Regions from separate parts of the Homo sapiens genome. Here region 1 is linked to region 2. Evidence: fine-mapped expression QTL. A gene starts in region 2. The other region holds a variant in brackets. All regions are shown on one strand. Distances are from middle to middle. Region 1 overlaps FRYL (FRY like transcription coactivator). Region 2 holds the start of FRYL (FRY like transcription coactivator).

What was found.
Region 1: its variant is fine-mapped to the expression of FRYL in stomach (GTEx, PIP 0.99).

Annotation. Positions count from the first base shown.
Region 1 is chr4:48,520,311-48,525,694 of GRCh38, forward strand. FRYL (FRY like transcription coactivator) reads right to left here. Exons shown (of 64, transcript NM_015030.2): 54 at 2,591-2,794; 55 at 738-905. Among named protein-coding and RNA genes, the nearest start is that of ZAR1, 33 kb to the left of the region's middle. The variant G/C (reference allele first, on the strand shown) is at 2,946.
Region 2 is chr4:48,777,618-48,783,001 of GRCh38, forward strand. FRYL (FRY like transcription coactivator) reads right to left here and starts at 2,662. Exons shown (of 64, transcript NM_015030.2): 1 at 2,461-2,662. RefSeq lists silencers at 1,628-2,507, 2,598-2,707.

The sequences.
Region 1 (5,384 bases), 260 kb before region 2:
CTAACAAGAACACAATAGTGTTTTATCACCTTACAAAAATAATAAGATCTGATACCTAGATTAGATCTAATAACTACATTAATTTGATGAACAGTGACAAAATGTAGCATTTCCTAATATTTACCAAGGAATAAAAAAAGCACATATGGCAGAGCTATAGCAATTACATTTTTAAAAAGTATAATAATCTTTAAAAAAAACACTAATACTTACTTATTTTTGGTCAGTCATTAGCTTCAAATCTGGCTTACTTCTCACAGGCCTTTCCAAAAAACATAATACTAGTGGTTCCAAAGTCTTTTTAAAAGATTTCATTTAACAACTGCTAAAAACCACAGCTGGCCTGAGGTTTTAATCCCAATCACAGCACCAATCACATAAACCCAACACAAAGCAAAAAGAGAAGAAAAAACCAAAGCGGTCCTTCTAAGAAAATACAGTGCAATAGATGATGCTCGCCAACCCCAGAGAAGCGTCTGTACATTAACCTCATCATGTTCTGCAATGCAAACTGCTCATTAAAAACACTCAAGATTATTTTTAACCTGTAGGTCATTTCCTTAATCTACCAACTTAAGAAAAAATCAGATTTGACTATTTCATTTAAAATAACTCAACAGGTTAGAAATACTGGAAACAAATCAACTTCAAAACTTTTTTGAAAGAAAAGCGGGAGCTATAAAAGAGTGCTAAAAAGAGCCCAGATTGGCCATGCACCAGCCTCCATTTCTCCCCACCTCAGGCAGCCGGCTGTTAGCATTATCTAGAGAAGCCTCCAAAGTTGGGGTCTCATCCCTGATTTGAAGCACTTCCTCTGTTGTGATGCTGCCAGTGGAATCTTCAGACTGGAGAAGTAAGTCAGGATGGTCTGGTATTGTTTCATCAGTGGCAGAATCACTGTTTAACTAAAAAGAGAAAGAGTAAAATAAGGAATTCATTTATGAGTCAAAAGCCACAGGAAACATTCTCTATCATAAAATATTTTAGGGGCTTCGTTATAAAGAGCTTCTGAGATTTCCTAAAATCATCTTTCTTTCCTTCCAGTCTACACCAGAATGGGTGTTGTTAGGGTAAGCAGCTAATCCCTCGGTAGAACTAAGTACACATTAATACAGGCTAAATTTTGCTAAACAAAAACTATCAAAGTGGAAGAGCTCTATGTAACTATGTTAACCTTGAGCTGAAATTCATATTGGAGCTGAATTCATATTCATTCATGGAGGACGAAGATTTATGTGGCACGGTTAAGTGAATGGGCACTAGAGACAGACTGCTTGATTCACATCTACTTACTAGCTATGTGTCCTGGGATAAGACATGTAATATGCAGATCTGCAATAACCATACTTGCCTTGTGTTAGGAGGAGAGTTATGGTAACTAATACACGTAAAACACCTTGAACAGGGCCGGGTGCATCGTAGACAGTCAGTAAGTGGTAACGTATTATGGCTGCCATTAGCAGCAGCGGTTGGTCATTGAACACTTAAATGGGAGAGGGGCAGTTAGTGGAAAGACAAACTGGGGCACCAATGAGATGTAAATACAGGAGAGATGACTGGACACCAACCACAAACCGACAACTTGACATTGTGCCTAAAGCAGCTCAGGCCCTTCCATTCAACATCACTGCCAGCACTTTACCAGCAGGCCGAGTGGAGCAAATGGATCTAAATTAAAGGTAGGTGGCTGGGTGCGGTGGCTCATGCCTGTGATCCTGCCACTTTGGGAGGCCGAGGTGGGAGGATCACTTGAGGCCAGGAGTTCAAGACTAACCTGGGCCACATAGCAAGACCCCATCTCTACAAAAAATTTAAAAAAATTAGCTGTGCATATGTGGCATGCACCTGTAGTCCTAGCTGCTTGAGAAGCTGAGGCAAGAGGATCACTTGAGACCTGGAGTTTAAGAATACAGTGAGCTATGGTTGTGCCACTGCACTCCAGCCTGGGTGATGGTGTGAGACCCTGTGCCTAAAGAATAAAAAAAGGAGGCATTCCTGTAAGAGCTGTGTAACCATAGCTGGTGCCTGGTCTCCACTGGTTTCTTCCTTATCACATGTACCAGGGTAGCTATTCCATGTGCCTTCTCCTTCTTTACAGTGCCATCTTCAAGTTCCAGCCCTACCACTGGCTTTTCTTGCACCCGTACTCTTCTGAAATAACAGGCTACTCTTGCAGCTTTCATTTTCCACTGACTCTACTTGATCTCGAAAGGGACCAAACTTGTGCTCTGTTTTTCCACACTATGCTAACTAGGAAAGAAAAGTGAGTGGTGAATTAAATGGTGTTGGTGCTCACATTGATACCAAAAATATGTTATCACTGAAGGCCTCTAATAGGGCCCAAAACAACTCACTGTGACTAGGAAAGAAGCAAGAGAAATTATATTTTAGCAGCTAATAGGTGTGCAGTATCAACCTAATAAGTTTAGTGCTGTCATGAATAACAACACGGTACTCCATTAGTGTTGCAATCTTGTAGATTCATTTCAGTGTGTGCATTTCACCCATGCACAAGAAATAATCATTAAGAAGTTGGAAGTTAAGAGGAAAATGAGACCAAATGTCACTGTAAGAAAAGTGAATTGTATACCATCTGTGTGCGTGAGAGTATCTGGCTTGCTGTAAGTGCCGCTTCTTCTTCCGAGGACTCATCTGTATCCTCCTGATTGGTGAGGTTCAGGCTGGGGGTGCTACTAGAGCACTGGTACTCCTGGAGGGATGGAGTGTCCCCTTTGTCAATACTGTCCAGTGAGCGCCTGCGAACTCCCCAGTTGAAATTGTCCATACTTTCACCCTGGAAAAGCAAGACACGATTTCTAAAACCTCAAATACATGCTTCTAAATGTACTAAATGTAATATACCAGAAAAACATATACCAAGATGAAAAATACTTAATGCATCATTAAAAGCAGAGTTTCAATCAGCCCTTCAATTTCTTTAAACT[G/C]TTAACACACCATCAAATATTTATATTTAAAAAGATCAAAATTATTTGGTTGACAACCTGTTTTAACGAAATAATTTTCTTGACTTTCTATCTTGTATTACTGGGGACCAAGTAAATCTACTATCTAAGCCATTTCTATTCTAATACACAAACATGAATGAGACCACAAAGAAGACAAATACATCACAGATGACAACAAATAAACAATCCATAACACCAGGCTGCAACTTACCTGCAGCTCCTGGTTAGCAAAAAGGAAAACACACAGAATTAGAAAAAAACGAAGACAAACATTTAAATATACACTACACTTTTGGGGCAAACTCTTTGTGATTTCTCAAACCCAAAGACTGATTCAAGCTCTGGATTAAGCTTTGTGCAGAAAGTCAACATGTGATTCAAATCTTTTTTTATGCAAAATATGTTGTGAAAAAGTCAGAGACAGACACTTAAAACAACATTTCTATGATACACTTTGGCAACACAAACTTTAAGAAAATCTTCAAGATTTACAAAGGTTTAATACTTAGTACAATGCAAAAACTGACTTTAAATACCCACATGCACTTGACAACATACAAGGTCACAATTATTTCAGTTGGTAGGATAGCTCTGGCTAAATTCAATGGTCATTTTTTGCTACAAAATATAATTTAAAATCAAGATCACAGCCATCAAAACATAACTGTTGCCAATTTTAAAAGGTCAAGAGGAAATATGACAAATTTCAATTTCTCCCACTTAAGGATTTATATAAGTTATGTTTCTGTTATTCTAAGCTGCTCCTCCTTTTGTAAGGATATAATCCCTACAATTTTTCTTAGGCCCTGATATGACAAACTATATTGAGCTGGCTACCAAAATATGATTTTTTTTTTCTGTATCCCTTTACACAGGAATTGTCCAGATTAGAAGTTTTCAAATCTTTTTTTTTTTTTTGAAAGCAGAAGAATACTTATTTCAAATGAAATTTTAGATGGCAGTCAATTGTGCAAAACAGAAAACCAGAGCTGCTCTGGTTGAAGGTGTCCAGGAACTTGGCCCATTGGATCTTTGAATCTGTCCCGGCTGTTTCTGAAGATATCTTGGAAGCCCTAGGGCCCTGCATGTCAGAGTTTGAAAACCACCTTCCTGGAACATATCATTTCAAATATTATTATGTACCAAAACACATAATGGCAACAGCACTCAATATATATTTGGTGAGTGAATGAATATGCACTGTGGGCTTTCAAAGTGAGGAGATATTTTATTATAATTTTCATTAGTGGTTAAGTTTGTTTTGTAGCAATCAAAGTATTTCCTATTACCATGTTTTAAACAAGACTATATCCAGGTTTTAGAAAATGTGTATCGCTGATTTGGCGTAATTATGAGGGATAAATTAGCGTGCTCCACCCCACCCCTGATTACTGTGACTTGAATTAAAGACAGAACTACAAATGAACATCCTTAGTCCATTCTAAGGTTCTATTAAAAGCCATGTTTATTACCACTGACATTTTAGAGCACTGAATGAACTTGAAAGCATTTACAGTTCTCTTTAAACAAGAGGCAAACAAAAAGAAAAATAACCTTACCATTACAAAAATGTCAAGAGCTGCCTTTAGAAATTTAAATTCTGGACTGAAAAAAGCAACTAACTACAGAAGAGTTTAGAAGCTGCTCCTGGCCTTGGGTAGGGCAGCAGGTCTCTTTAACCTATTCCACTCCGTTACTTGGTTGTGCAAGTCTGTTCTATTTCCTACAATATATTTTTTCAAATGATGAGTGTGAAACTAATTTTAGGGTGGTAACCTACACTTTTTGAAAAAAAAAAAAAAAGAATGAAAAGGAAGAGAATAGAAAATATCAGTATGCACAGCATAGAGTTTGGATGCATATTCTTGCAACTTTTATTTTTAAAGGTATATATATATATATATATATATATATATATATACACACACTTGGATGTGATGTAAAATGTATTAACTGTGGATTAGTGTCAAAAAAAAGTTTAAAAGCTACTGCTCTGAAAGGTGCTAAATAATACCTGTTCTTGAGTTCCTATGAACCTGTACAATTGTGTCTTTGGGAAAATGTAAATGGTGGAGTATTCCATAGGAGCCTACACAGCTCCTAAACTGACATGAAGGCATTTGCATTACTTGGAGGCACCATGGTCACATCCTCACATCTGCAGGGGGCACTGAGGCATGTTGAGGAGAGGGAACTTTACTTCCTCAAACTGGTCTTCCATGGACAATGAACAGTGTGATACGGGAGAGTGCATTACATTTCATTCCTCCGCCTCACCTATTAGAGCCAAAGGAAACACCCCTACAAGAAGAGCTGATGAATGTGTATAAGCTGTATATGAGTTGTATATGTATATGTACATGAGAGTTGATCAGTGTGTATGATCTGTATGAGTTGTATATGTATATGTATACGAGA
Region 2 (5,384 bases):
GAAATACAGTCTAGATATTTCAAAGATAATTATTTCTGAATGTTTTATTCATATGTTCTCTTCTAAAAGTTGAGAAATTCTTTTATTGTTTAAATAAATTGGTAAGTAAACAAAGACAGACATTTAAAAACTTGGTTTAACCGTCTCCTTTTATTATGAGATGGGAAGGAAGATTATGCCTAGCTGCTTGCCTGACATCCTTATCACAGAAATGGATCAAAGAAAAAAACAAAAAAGAAGAAATATTAGGTGAAACAATGCCAGATACCATCAAGATTACTACAAACGGCCAAGCACGGTGGCTCAGTCTGTAATCCCAGCACTTTGAGAGGCCAAAGCAGAAGGATCGCTTGAGGCCAGGAGTTGGAGACCAGCCGTCTATACGAAAAATTAAAAAGTGAGACCACCATCTCTACAAAAAATAAAAATTTTAGCTAGGCGCAGTCGTGCCCACCTGTAGTCCCGGCTACTACGGAGCCTGGGGTGGGAGGATCACTTGAACCCAAAGAATTTGTTTTTGTGTGTCTTTATTTCCTAAATTCTGTGAGAAGAATAGATTTTTATTTCAAACATTATCTGATATTGGCTTCCAATTTCCCAAGTAGTTTCTCTATTGTTACTGCTGAGCCTGTGAATTTACAATGTTCCACACCACTCCGAAGTTACTAGACAATAAATTAATCGATGAACGCTTTAAAAAGTTGGACTGCTTTAATAAAAAAAAAAAAAACTGGGTCACATGTTCCAACAGAATTCCCTCTTTTAGAGAACTAATTTTACAAAATAATTCAGAGTGGAAGACAAGACACGATGGAATGCTATTTTTGATAATGAGTAGCAGAAAAAAGACCAGAGAATAACACACCCACTGCTACTTTGTTTATACGGTTGTAACTTGCACATGCAAGTACTCTACATAAAGTATTGCACAAGAAGAAACTGTCAAAAATGAATGCTTATGAAAACATTCTTCACTAAGGCCTCTAACAAGGAATGTGCTATCTCTGATTTCCTCGGCAAGTATTGACAGATTAAGCAGAGTGATAATGCTCAAGATGAAAAGACGTCTTATACTAGTTTTTATCAATAGTAAAAGCTGTTGGTACTAATTATAATGGCTGTAAATTCAGTAGCAGAATCAACTTTACAGACGATATCTCCTAGGCAGCACAGCATTTTATAAAACCAACTTTACTTCCATCAAAACCCTTTTTCCCCCCCAATCCGACAGACCCTGGCAACCTGTCTTGCTGTGTCTTTTTTCCCCTACCCTTCCAAAAGAACCCCAGCCAGTGAATCGAAGTAATATTTTCCGCAGTTCAAAGGTAAGGGCAAACTCAGCTCTACTAAGAACTCTTGCTCCTCACCAGCACACACCCTAACCCCCACCCCCTTTTTTTTCTTTTCAAATCTTGGCCTAGGAAAGATTAATGCTCCCATATCATTGCAAATCCACAAAAATGCGATTTTAGGTGGCGAGGAACTAAACTAGGATGGCAGGAAAGACCGGCAGCAATAAATCATTTCGCCCTAGAAACCAGCCTCTCCAGAACGCAGGAAACCAGGCTGTGCCCAAAGAACCTGCCGCCCGGAAGCAACAACTTCCATCAAACGGCAAATAAAAGTTGCAAAGAAGAGCTCAGCGCCCAGGCACCCTGCCCGGTGCCGAGGCTGAGAGCAGCAGGCAATCTACAGGCCGAGTCAGCTCGCGGGCGGTGGCCGCGGTGTCCGCAGGGCTGGCTCCGGCTCCGGAAGACTCCGGGTCCCGGGGTACGCCAACGGCCCGGGGCTGCGCGGGCACAGCGCCCGCACCCCTCCCCAGGACCGCGAGCAGTGGGCGGAGAGACCAGAGCAAGGGAAAAGGCGGACAATGCCCGGCTGGGCTGGCGCGCTCCGCCGGTCCCCGCCAGCCCTGCCCGCCGGGGCCCGCCAGCCGCCGCGCTAAGTTTGCTCCTCAGCCCTCCCTTCCCAGCCGAGGCGGCGGAGCCGTGGTCGCCGGTCTTCCTCCACCTCTGCCACCGCCTTCCTTCCCGCGGGGCGGCTCCCGCGAGTCGGTGGCGAGGCGGCGCGCGACCAGAGCAGGACGCGCGAGAAGGCGGCGCGCGAGGGGTACCCGGGCGCGCGCGAGAAGAGCCAGGCACTGGAGGGGAAGGGGACGTGCGGGAGAGACGGGCGCGCGGCGCTGCCGGCGGAACCGCCGGAGCTCGGGCGGGCTTTCGGTTGAGGCTGGGGTTGCGCCGCGGTTTGGTGTCCGTTACGAGCGCCGGCCCGGGCCGCGCCGCGCCGCTTGCCAGCCATCCTGGACCGCCTTCCCTCGGCGCCCACCAGGAAGGACAGCTGGCGAGGGCCGACGACCTCGTCTCCCGCCCAGGCTGGGCTGCCGGCGGCGGGCATCCCGGCGCCTGCCCCGGGGCTGGAAGAGAAAGTAAAATGAAGCGCCTTTCCCCAGTCAACACCTACCCGTTCCCAGTCCTAGTACAGCTGCCTCGCTCCTCCAGCGCCGCCGGTCCCCGCCCTCGGGCCCCTGGCTCCGTTCTCTTGACAATGGCGCGTCCCCTTTAAGGAATAATCCGATCGGAACCGATCTGTGGTTAAACCTCCCTCCGACTCTGATTTTAACCGGATTTCTCTCTCGCTCTCTCCCAGAGCCCGACGGGCGCCCGGCTGTGCTGCGAGGTCTTCCCACCCCTTCCCTACCCCGCCCGCCCCCTGGCCTTCCTGATTGGCGAGAAACACTACAACAGGAACAGCAGTCCTCGCCCTCCACTGGCCTGGCCAGCCGCCGCTCAAAGTTGCTCCTACCTTCTCCCCGCCCCTTTTCCCGGGTTGGTCTTCCCTCTAATCATTCTCTGCCCTCGCCTCTAACGTTGCTTTGGAGCCCTGGCAGTCAAGGCTCACCCTCCCGCCTCCGGAAAGCGAACTTTATTTTTATTGGTGAAAGGACATCTTCCTGTACACTTGATTGGGCAAGGAAAGAGCTAGTCTGCACGCTCCCTACCATTATTACTCTCTCTTTACGGGCTTGAGAAACACAGCCGCAAAGTCCTCTCCGCTTTGCCTTCTAGGAGCGACTTTACCTTTAAATGTTGTTAGGGGTCGAGGACAAACTCATATCCTATATTGAGGAAAGCTGGAAAGGGACAAGAGAAAAATTCAAAATTTTCTCCCGATCAGTAATGTATCCAGAGCTGGCGCCCGGATCCTGCGGAACCTTATCCAATGATCCAGAGAATGGAATGGTTAGAATTGAGTTAGAATACCTGAAAGTCCAGTGCTAATTCCTCCTGAGATTTACTCAACAAGTTTCATCCACTGTCCGCCCTACTCATACCATTGATTGCACTGGCATTTTGCCACCCGGAAGAGCTTTAATCAAGTTATCTGCAAACCTGGAGGTTTCCTTGCTTGTCTCGCAATTGTTCATTTAGAAAATCATTTCCATTACAAGTTCCGTTTAAGTCACGTCCTCTGTGACGTTCCCGCGTTTCCACGAGACCTGTTACTTTTTTGAAAAAATTAAGTAGATGGTACCCTTATGCCATCCTCAAAGTGTAGGACTTCGTTCCCCCTTGCTAGAACTGTAGGAAAAACACCCCAGGTCACTTGAACAACTGAGATGCCTCTCAGGAGAAAACGAGTCTGTCTAAGGGAAAGAGGGAATCTGATACCAGAAGCTTGACCATGGAGCAGAACCTCACGCATTGAAAAGAGAAGAAATTATGGGGAAGCCTAGTGCGGGGTCTGCTTTAGAGTTTCCCCAGTTTCCCACTGGAGCTGTAAGAACTAAAAGGTTTATTTCCACTAAAATTGAGTACAGGTACAGCTTCGGTACCCATCTAAGAATGTTAGGGGAAAATGGTTATGTGTTCTCTCCCTCTTTGCCGATGAACCTTGAAGACTGTGTACCCCGGGGGCTTTAGTACATTTGCAGTGATACCCCAGTATAATCTAATGGTGCCAAGGAAGTGTCAGTGCTCAGCAGTACCCTAGAAAAGGGGCTTGATGATGACAGAGAAGGGTAAGTAAACATCAGTAGTTGGTAGTTCATAGGACTTTTCCCCAAATACAGGTGAAAAATTTCATGAGGATTCCCGAAAATATGAAAGAGCAGGAAACAAAAGGGAACGTTGCAGGAAGGTGGTTTAGGTATCACTAGTGGGGGCAAGAGACGATGAACTATCTGGGTTGCATTTATATGGCCTTCACAGATACACACATCCTCCCTATTAAGTCCCTATAACTAAATCCCTATGCTTAGCCTATTCTGATTTTACTGTATAATAAAACTGCAGCCAAGCTAAACTAATACTTCTGGTTTACTCACTTACCACTCTCAAACTCTGAGACTGCTTCTGGGTTCTAATATTCTACATTAGAATATAAGAAGAAGAAGATACTATGTACTGATATCTAGTATGATCTTCTGGAGATAAAGATATCCAGTGTTTCAGGCATGTACACACCTGCAGCTTTTGTTCAAGGTCTAAGTGATGTTTTCAGGTTCTTTCTAAAACACCTGCCCTATGATATCCAGCTTGTTACTGCCCTCTTTTGCTGCACTAGCAGACTGGGCATATAAACTAGAGAAGGCAGTCTACAGTAACCTCTAGATTCTCTTACTTGCATTGAACCAACTATGCTGAGATTATCACCTTTCAAGTATAATTTGTGTTATTCTTTTCTCTAAATATTTCATATTTGCCCACAATAGGATCATTTATCACTTTTTAGCCCACACATGCAACTTCCTGGTACTAATACTCCTACTGGCATTTCACAGCAAAGAAGAATTTTAAAAATCTACAAACCTGGAGCTTACAACGTAGAGGTTATTCTTAAGAATGTTCAGTGTTGATGAACACAGCCCCAGTTCTAACCCTGGAGAATTTTACAAGTTGTACTTTCTCATTCAGAGAGACTTTATCTCTCTACCTTAGTTTCTCATTCTAAGCCCAATCCCCACTCTTTAAAAAAAGAATATTTCTCGGCTGGGTGCAGTGGCTCACGCCTGTAATCCCAGCACTTTGGGAGGCCAAGGCAGGTGGATGACTTGAGGCCAGGAGTTCAAGACCAGCCTGGGCAACATGGCGAAACCCCATCTCTGCAAAAAATACAAAAATTAGCTGGTGGGAATGGTCACAGGCCTGTGATCCCAGCTACTGGGGAGGCTGAGGCAGGAGAATCACTTGAACCCGAAAGGCGAAGGTTGCAGTGAGCCAAGATTGCACCACTGTACTCCAGCCTGGGCGACAGAGTCTCACTCTGTCACACACACACACACACACACACACACACACACACACACCCTTCTCCAATGTGCTAATGTAAATAAAGCTTTTTAAATTATTGTATATAGATGTTTGTTAAAGTCTTTTAAATGGTGA